Homo sapiens: one gene and its partners. The protein of the gene in region 1 interacts with the protein of each later gene in a pairwise test. Each region holds a gene or a part of one and is shown in the gene's direction. Other genes may lie near its edges. The genes, in order: NRIP1, CEP70 and ARPC3.

The links.
Region 2: the proteins of NRIP1 (region 1) and CEP70 interact in binary tests that used the Homo sapiens proteins (3 or more experiments, as listed by UniProt).
Region 3: the proteins of NRIP1 (region 1) and ARPC3 interact in binary tests that used the Homo sapiens proteins (3 or more experiments, as listed by UniProt).

The regions. Positions count from the first base shown.
Region 1 is NC_000021.9:14,960,590-14,964,014, reverse strand, and holds the end of NRIP1 (nuclear receptor-interacting protein 1), read left to right. Parts: 3' UTR 1-2,780; downstream 2,781-3,425. UniProt on the Homo sapiens protein: Modulates transcriptional activation by steroid receptors such as NR3C1, NR3C2 and ESR1. Also modulates transcriptional repression by nuclear hormone receptors.
Region 2 is NC_000003.12:138,570,102-138,573,760, reverse strand, and holds part of CEP70 (centrosomal protein of 70 kDa), read left to right. Parts: intron 1-776; exon of another isoform or gene 777-828; 5' UTR 829-833; coding exon 834-902; intron 903-2,404; coding exon 2,405-2,495; intron 2,496-2,603; coding exon 2,604-2,727; intron 2,728-3,234; exon of another isoform or gene 3,235-3,262; coding exon 3,263-3,443; intron 3,444-3,659.
Region 3 is NC_000012.12:110,437,252-110,440,417, reverse strand, and holds part of ARPC3 (actin-related protein 2/3 complex subunit 3), read left to right. Parts: intron 1-29; coding exon 30-106; intron 107-3,166. UniProt on the Homo sapiens protein: Component of the Arp2/3 complex, a multiprotein complex that mediates actin polymerization upon stimulation by nucleation-promoting factor (NPF).

The DNA.
Region 1 (3,425 bases):
TTCCATTTTTTGTATTTTAACTACTTTACTAAATTAATACTCCTCCTTTTACAGAATTAGAAAAGTTAACATTTATCTTTAGGTGGTTTCCTGAAAAGTTGAATATTTAAGAAATTGTTTTTAACAGAAGCAAAATGGCTTTTCTTTGGACAGTTTTCACCATCTCTTGTAAAAGTTAATTCTCACCATTCCTGTGGTACCTGCGAGTGTTATGACCAGGATTCCTTAAACCTGAACTCAGACCACTTGCATTAGAACCATCTGGAGCACTTGTTTTAAAATGCAGATTCATAGGCAGCATCTCAGATCTACAGAACAAGAATCTCTGCTAAGTGGACCTGGAATCTTCCATCTGCATCTTAACATGCTCTCTAGGTGTTTCTTGTGTTTGAGAACCATGACTTATGACTTTCCTCAGAACATGAGACTGTAAAACAAAAACAAAAAACTATGTGATGCCTCTATTTTCCCCAATACAGTCACACATCAGCTCAAAATTTGCAATATTGTAGTTCATATATTACCGTTATGTCTTTGGAAATCGGGTTCAGAACACTTTTTATGACAAAAATTGGGTGGAGGGGATAACTTTCATATCTGGCTCAACATCTCAGGAAAATCTGTGATTATTTGTGTGTTCTAATGAGTAACATCTACTTAGTTAGCCTTAGGGATGGAAAAACAGGGCCACTTACCAAACTCAGGTGATTCCAGGATGGTTTGGAAACTTCTCCTGAATGCATCCTTAACCTTTATTAAAACCATTGTCCTAAGAACAATGCCAACAAAGCTTACAACATTTAGTTTAAACCCAAGAAGGGCACTAAACTCAGATTGACTAAATAAAAAGTACAAAGGGCACATATACGTGACAGAATTGTACACAATCACTCCATTGGATCTTTTACTTTAAAGTAGTGATGAAAAGTACATGTTGATACTGTCTTAGAAGAAATTAATATATTAGTGAAGCCACATGGGGTTTCAGTTGCGAAACAGGTCTGTTTTTATGTTCAGTTTGTACAATCCACAATTCATTCACCAGATATTTTGTTCTTAATTGTGAACCAGGTTAGCAAATGACCTATCAAAAATTATTCTATAATCACTACTAGTTAGGATATTGATTTAAAATTGTTCTACTTGAAGTGGTTTCTAAGATTTTTATATTAAAAATAGGTGTGATTTCCTAATATGATCTAAAACCCTAAATGGTTATTTTTCCTCAGAATGATTTGTAAATAGCTACTGGAAATATTATACAGTAATAGGAGTGGGTATTATGCAACATCATGGAGAAGTGAAGGCATAGGCTTATTCTGACATAAAATTCCACTGGCCAGTTGAATATATTCTATTCCATGTCCATACTATGACAATCTTATTGTCAACACTATATAAATAAGCTTTTAAACAAGTCATTTTTCTTGATCGTTGTGGAAGGTTTGGAGCCTTAGAGGTATGTCAGAAAAAATATGTTGGTATTCTCCCTTGGGTAGGGGGAAATGACCTTTTTACAAGAGAGTGAAATTTAGGTCAGGGAAAAGACCAAGGGCCAGCATTGCTACTTTTGTGTGTGTGTGTGTGGGTTTTGTTTTGTTTTTTTGGTTGGCTGGTTGTTTTCGTTGTTGTTAACAAAGGAATGAGAATATGTAATACTTAAATAAACATGACCACGAAGAATGCTGTTCTGATTTACTAGAGAATGTTCCCAATTTGAATTTAGGGTGATTTTAAAGAACAGTGAGAAAGGGCATACATCCACAGATTCACTTTGTTTATGCATATGTAGATACAAGGATGCACATATACACATTTTCAAGGACTATTTTAGATATCTAGACAATTTCTTCTAATAAAGTCATTTGTGAAAGGGTACTACAGCTTATTGACATCAGTAAGGTAGCATTCATTACCTGTTTATTCTCTGCTGCATCTTACAGAAGAGTAAACTGGTGAGAGTATATATTTTATATATATATATATATATATATATATAATATGTATATATATATATATTGACTTGTTACATGAAGATGTTAAAATCGGTTTTTAAAGGTGATGTAAATAGTGATTTCCTTAATGAAAAATACATATTTTGTATTGTTCTAATGCAACAGAAAAGCCTTTTAATCTCTTTGGTTCCTGTATATTCCATGTATAAGTGTAAATATAATCAGACAGGTTTAAAAGTTGTGCATGTATGTATACAGTTGCAAGTCTGGACAAATGTATAGAATAAACCTTTTATTTAAGTTGTGATTACCTGCTGCATGAAAAGTGCATGGGGGACCCTGTGCATCTGTGCATTTGGCAAAATGTCTTAACAAATCAGATCAGATGTTCATCCTAACATGACAGTATTCCATTTCTGGACATGACGTCTGTGGTTTAAGCTTTGTGAAAGAATGTGCTTTGATTCGAAGGGTCTTAAAGAATTTTTTTAATCGTCAACCACTTTTAAACATAAAGAATTCACACAACTACTTTCATGAATTTTTTAATCCCATTGCAAACATTATTCCAAGAGTATCCCAGTATTAGCAATACTGGAATATAGGCACATTACCATTCATAGTAAGAATTCTGGTGTTTACACAACCAAATTTGATGCGATCTGCTCAGTAATATAATTTGCCATTTTTATTAGAAATTTAATTTCTTCATGTGATGTCATGAAACTGTACATACTGCAGTGTGAATTTTTTTGTTTTGTTTTTTAATCTTTTAGTGTTTACTTCCTGCAGTGAATTTGAATAAATGAGAAAAAATGCATTGTCTCTGGTTTGAAATGACTGTTATTTTGTGGGCTTTCTCTGGTTTTTAGGTTTTCCATAAACGTAAAACACATTGCTATGAATATAACAGTGATCTTCAAGGATGTTTTGCCCTTCTTAGAAAAATAAAGGGGACAAAAAAGAAGGTGGCTGGCAAGTTAGTGCACTAGAAACAGGGTAATTAAGGCATAACTCAAAGTGACAATCAGCCTATGGCCTTTCTCCCATGATTCAGTGTGTAACTAGTTGATCACTGTAAATTTTTAAACTAGAAAATAGTTTGTGCAGTATTCAAAATTAATGTTGACTATATGTATATACATACACACTTCATTTTAGGATAAGACTTTATCAGAAGGCTTTTATCCAGTTTTTAATGGGTGTGGTTTATTTTAAATAAAAGAAAAAGGAGTTTAATAATTTTCCAAAAATGAATGTGTATGTATATACACGTGTTTACATGTTTAAATATATGCTGTATGTGTATAGGTAATGAGTAATTGATAAGCAACATACATACTCAATAAGTATTAGAGACCAGTGGATTCCAAGAAAAAAAAAAAAACTTTGTACCCAGGTAAACTTAACAGCTTAGGAATTTTTATTTTTACAAATAATGATAATTTATGAGAAAGACATTTTCCCAAA
Region 2 (3,659 bases), on another chromosome or scaffold:
CTACTCTCAGCTAATATATTTCTGTTACTGTGCATTTTAATTGTACATTTTATACTTCACAAGATCTCATTATGTAGTCTGTGTTTAAACTCGCCCATTTTTTTGCTCTATTTTTTTCTACATCTCTGCTTTTCCATCAGGGAGTCTTCTGCATGAAGCAGCTTCTTTAGAATTTTTTTACAGAGCAGATGCAATGAACACTCTCAGATTTATTTTGTGTCATGTGTTTGAAAATATATTACTTTTGCCTTTATTATTCGTTAATGAATGTTTTCACTGGCTTTGGAATTTTAGATAAGCAATTATTTTCTTTCAGCACATTGAAGATATTAGTGTCTAGGTATGACTGACTTTTTTTTTCTTTTTTCTTTTTTTTTTTTACTGTATCCCAGTTGCAATATGTTGGGTTTCTAGAATGTGTGGATTTATGTCTTTCATTGATTCTCAAATTTTTCTTAGCCATTAGCTCTTCAAATGCTCCTTCTACTCCATTCTTTCCTCTGTTCTTGGGTACCAGTTATGCATTCTGTGGTGGGGGGTTAGACAGGACAGAGTGTATGTGTGTGTGTGGTATATGTGTAAAATCCCAGAATGCTTTATTTCCAGAGGAGAACATTATAAGATAGGGTTTATTCAAATGAGTCTTACAATCAGCTATCTAAGAAGTCACAAAGTTTTGACGCAGGAATGACCTGAATTGCCCTGCAAGAGTAGTGGATTCTTTTAAATATACTTTTCTTTAACTCCTTTTGCACTTTTTGTCTTTTTTCATTTAGGCAACTCAAATTTTTTAATTGCCAATTTCTGTTTCTTTTGATTCTACAAAAGTAACTATGTTTCCGGTAGCCCCTAAACCCCAGGATTCCAGTCAACCATCAGACAGACTCATGACTGAAAAACAGGTAAACTTAAAATATTTTAAGACACTGCTTCTCAAAATATGTGCCAAAGAATGCTACATCTACAAACAGGAAAATTTGACTTTAAAAGGATTCTTTCTCAAATAATTTTAGGAAATGCTGGGTTAAAGACTATGAAATGGTTTAATTACTCTAAGACTTCACAATATTAGTCTCCAAAGGGAGGATTTAGTATACAGCATTTCATACATACTTAACACTAGTTTGATGAACATTTCATTAGACTAGTGTTCTGTAGCATGTACTTTGGAAAATGCCATTCCCAACTATTTTCAGAATTTACAATTACTTTATCTTAAAATGTAAGAGGTATCAGGAAACAATATGTATAAGTTAATCATTCAAAATATGTGACTTTATTATGTATAGAGCATTTTGTTTTTATGAGTTACAGTAGAAGTTCTGAGACACTAACTCAGAGCTTTTGGCTCCTAAAACAACATCAATGTTAATTTTAGTTGTGTCTACCACGTAGTTAAACTCTGTGATCAGAAAGACTAAAGCATAAATGAGAGAAAAGTTATGAGTGGGAGGAGATGTAAAAAAAAGGAGGAAGAAGTCAACAGTCAAAAAGAAAGACTTGTTTGACTTTGAGAGTGTCTTTCAGGGTGATTCTGTTAGAGTCAGTTATCCAGATGGACGGGCTCCTTTTTATAGTTAGACCTTGTCCATTTGACAAGGAGCTGTCTGAAATATTGGCTCCAACTAGTCAGGTATGTTTTGATTTTTTTGTGACCCTAGTCATTATGAAAGTGATACTTAGGGGCTGGGGCGGTGGCTCACGCCTGTAATCTCAGCACTTTGGGAGGCCAGGGCGGGTGGATCACCAGGTCAGGAGATCCAGACCAACCTGGCTAACACGGTGAAACCCCATCTCTACTAAAAATACAAAAAATTAGCCGGGCGTGGTGGCGGGCGCCTGTAGTCCCAGCTACTCGGGAGGCTGAGGCAGGAGAATGGTGTGAACCTGGGAGGCAGAGCTTGCAGTGAGCCGAGATCGTACCGCTGCACTCCAGCCTAGGTGACAGAGCAAGACTCTGTCTCAAAAAGAAAGAAAAAAGAAAGTGATACTTAGAAGTGACTCACCTTTTCTTTTCTTTACTATCCAGTTATTATAGCCTAGTTTACAGCTGTTTATTCTGAGCAGGGCTTGGTTTGGCTTAGTTAAATCTAAAACCTTAGATTTATTTGATTCACTGAAATTACAAGGTGTTTTTGTTGTTGTTGTTGGTTTTGTCCATTGAGGCCTACATATGAGTATTCTGTATAATGCAACAATTTGTGCTTATTTACATACTTCTAGTCTATTACTAATTTTGCTAGAAACAATAAATGTGTTTTTTGGATATTATATATGCATAAACATTTATACTTAAAACTTTTGAAGAAAAAGTTCTATTCTGAAAATGCAGGAAATTATATATGAGAGAATTTCTTCACTTTATATCTAAAGTTAACCCTTTCTTCTCTTTCTGTAATTGTAGCAGGAAGAAGCAGAATGGGAAAGCATAAATGTGCTATTGATGATGCATGGCTTAAAACCTTTGTCTCTAGTCAAAAGAACAGATCTCAAAGGTAATTAGATCCTATTCTTGATGCTTAAGGTAAAAAGTTTATTTTTCCTTAAAAAATTTTTTTTGCCTTTTATTTTTACTATCTGTATTATATACTTTTTAAATGTAGATCTCATCATTTTTGACAAACAGTCATCACAAAGGATGAGACAGAATTTGAAATTGTTGGTGGAAGAAACATCATGTCAACAGAACATGATACAGGAGCTTATAGAAACTAATCAACAGCTTAGGTGAGAAAATGGAAAAGATTTCTTTTGAATTGTTTGTATGCGTTCTAAAAATAACTGCCTTGAAAAAAATCTTGAAATTTAATTTCCCATTTTGATTAAATATTAAACTAAAAAATATTTTTGTAGGTAAAATTTTAATAGGTAAATCTTTTGGTAATAGCTTAGCATAGATGTTTAATGGTACCCTATATTTCTTCTATTAGTTTCTGTTGCAGGATGAGCATCTCAAATCTGAAAATCTGAAAGGCTCCAAAAATTGAAACTTTTTGAGCACCAACATGATGCTTAAAGGAAATGCTTATTGGAGCATTTTGGATTTTGGATTTTCAGATTTGAGATGCTTAACTAGTAAGTATGATGCAAATATTCCAAAATCTGAAAAAATCTGAAATATGAATCACTTCTGGTTCCAAGCATTTTGGATAAAGAGAATGCAAAGAAACTTTAGAAAGGCAATACATTCTTATATGGATATGCTTGGTAATTCGATTTATTTTTAATACTAAGGGAAGAAATTGTATGTCTATTAACTTAGAAATGAACTTCAGCTAGAGCAAAGCCGAGCAGCCAATCAAGAACAACGAGCTAATGACTTGGAACAAATTATGGAAAGTGTGAAATCCAAAATTGGTGAATTGGAGGATGAATCACTAAGTAGGGCTTGCCACCAACAGAATAAAATAAAAGATCTTCAAAAGGAGCAGAAAACTTTACAGGTACTGAGTTATGAATTCTTAGATGATGGTTAGTTAGTACTAAAACAGCTCATTATGGTCCCAGGTGACTTCCATGTTGTTTGATTCAGTGGTTTTTACCTTTTTTGGCTTATCACTGCTACCTTGAAATTCTCTTCACTTGGTTTCTAGAATGTCCTTTATTTCCCTCTGACCTCACTGATCATTCTCTAATTTCTTTTGCTGTTTTTTTTTCTC
Region 3 (3,166 bases), on another chromosome or scaffold:
CTGTGCTCCTTCCCTTGTGTCCTGCTTAGCAAAAGATACAGATATTGTGGATGAAGCCATCTATTACTTCAAGGCCAATGTCTTCTTCAAAAACTATGAAATTAAGGTAAATTACGGAGCTTTTAATATTTAACTTAGTTTTCTCATAGGGATAATACCAACCTTGCTATCCAGATTGCTGTGAGGAGAAAATAAAATGAAATCAGCATGTAATTTTTAAATTCGAGAGCAGTGCTTAATGTTAGCTTTTGTATAAATATTAGTTTCTTTTTTTTTCCTCCAAATTCTATACCAGGGGTTGGCAAACTCTAACCTGAGGGCCACATTTGGCCCACTGCCCCTTTTTATGAATAAACCTTTATTGGAACACAGCCACAACCATTTGTTTCTATATTATCTATAGTTACTTTCACACCAAAACAGCAGAATTGAGTAGTTGTGACAAAGACTGTATGGCCCACAAAACCTAAAAATACTGCCTGCCTTTTACAGAGAAAGTTTGCCAACCCCTTGCTAGAAGTATCTTTATTTATTCAACATTAGTTAAGCAGCACCTACTATGTGCCAGCCTTTTGTTTTGTTTTGAGACAGGGTCTTGCTCCGTCGCCCAGGCTAGAGTGCAGTGGCACAATCACAGCTCACTATACCGTCAACCTCCTGGGCTCAGACAGTCCTCCTGCCTCAGCCTCCCAGGTAGCTGGAACTACAGGCATGCACCACCACACCTGGCTAATTTTTTGTATTTTTAGTAGAGACGGGGTTTCACAATGTTAGGCAGGATGGTGTCTCGATCTCCTGACCTCATGATCCGCTCACCTCAGCCTCTCAGTGTGCTGGGATTACAGGCGTGAGCCACCGCTCCCGGCCCTAAAATGGAATTTCAGCCCCTCCTTGCCAAACTCTGAACTTCTGGAATCAAACAGGTTGTGAATTATTTATTTGTAGACTCTTGGTGTACAAATTGTAGTCTAAACATTCTGTGATGGTAATAGAATGTTTTCTATATCTCATGTGTGGGTTAAGTTTGTAACAGTTATAAATGTTACAATTCTCTGGGCACATTGCTTGAGTTCAGGAGTTCGAGACCAGCCTGGGCAACATGGCGAACCCCCGTCTCTACAAAAAATAGAAAAATTAGTGCATGGTGGCTCACGCCTGTAATCCCAACACTTGGGAGGCTGAGGCGGGTGGATCACATGATGCCAGGAGTTTGAGACCAGCCTGGCCAACAAAGCGAAACCCCATCTCTACCAAAAATACAAAAATTAGCCAGGTGTAGTAGTGCATGCCTGTAATCCCAGCTACTCGGGAGGCTGAAGCACAAGAATTGCTTGAACCCAGGAGGTGATGGTTGCAGTGAGCCGAGATCACACCACTGCACCCAGCCTGGGCGACAGAGCAAGACTGTCTCAAAAAAAAAACAAAAAACTCTGCCACATTTCATTTGTTCCCAGATACTATATTGTCTTAAAAATAGGGAAATGTGGCTGGGCGCAGTGCCTCTGCCCGTAATTTGGGAGGCCAAGGCGGGCGGATCACCTGAGGTCGGGAGCTTGAGACCAGCCTGACCAACATGGGGAAACCCCGTCTCTACTAAAAATACAAAATTAACTGGGCGTGGTGGTGCGTGCCTGTAATCCCAGCTACTTGGGAGGCTGAGGCAGGAGAATCACTTGAACCCAGGAGGCAGAGGTTGCGGTGAGCCAATATCACGCCATTGCACTCCAGCCTGGGCAGCAAAAGTGAAACACTCAAAAAAAAAAAAATATATAGGAAAATGGTGTGGTTTGGGGGTAATTTTTTTGTTGTTTTTTTGTTTTGAGACAGAGTCCCGCTCTGTCACCAGGCTGGAGTGCAATGGCGTGATCTCGGCTCAGTGCAACCCTCGACTCCCGGGTTCAAGTGGTTCTCCTGCCTCAGCCTCCCAAGTAGCTGGGATTACAGGCACGCGCCACCACGCCAAGCTAATTTTTGTATTTTTTGGTAGGGACAGGGTTTCACCACGTTGGCCAGGATGGTCTCGATCTCCTGAGCTCGTGATACACCCACCTTGGACTTCCAAAGTGTTGGGATTACAGGTGTGGGCCACCGCACCCGGCCTTTTTTTTTTTTTTTTTAATTCGAGACAGAGTCTTGCTCTGTTGCCCAGGCTGCAGTGCAGTGGTACAGTCTTGACTCATTACAACCTCTGCCTCCTGGCTTCAAGCGATTCTGTGGCCTTAGCCTCCCTAGCAGCTGGGATTACAGGCGCACGCCACCATGACTGGCTAATTTTTGTATTTTTAGTAGAGACGGTGTTTCGCCATGTTGCCCAGGCTGGTCTCAAACTCCTGGGCTCAAGCAATCCACCCACCTCAACCTCCCAAAGTGCTGGGATTACAGGCATAAGCCACTGCACCTGGCCTAAATTTGTGTAAAATTTGACCCAAAGTCCATACCACATTTGATCAACATTCATTTGTCTTCTCCACATTTTCTTTTTGGTTAGGTCAAGACATTGAGATTATGGAGTTCTTTGGGAGCAAGTCAAATGTGAAATAGTTGCTTCCTCCTTTAGAGTAATGACTATTTCTGTTCTCGGCAGAGACCCTGAAGGGAAGGGTTTTTAAAAATTAGCCAACCATATGGAGCAGTTCAGGCTTTCCAGGCAGCTTTGTTACTTCTTCCTATACAGTGAGGGGCTGTTGACACAGATCCTTGGGAACCCTGGGGCAAGGGGAGCCGAGAAAAACAAGAGAGAGCAGCCACTCAGCCGAGCGTGGTGGCTCATGCCTGTAATCCCAGCACTTTGGGAGGCTGAGGTGGACAGATCACTTGAGGTCAGGAGTTCGAGACCAACCTGGCCAACATGGTGAAACCCCGTCTCTACTAAAAATAGAAAAATTAGCCAGGCGTGGTGGCGGGCACCTGTAATCCCAGCTACTCGGGAGGCTGAGGCAGGAGAATTGCTTGAACCTGGGAGGTGGAGGTTGCAGTGAGCTGAGATTGTGCCACTGCACTCCAGCCTGGGCAACAGAGCAAGACTCCGTCTCAAAAAAAAAAAGCAGCTGCACATCTCAGAGTGGGGCTTGTGCCTTCCTCCCAGGGGCAGACGGAAAAGGAGACTGAGGAGACTGTGCATTTGGAGAATGGGAGTTTTGATGTGATAGTGGCTGTCCTACCACTG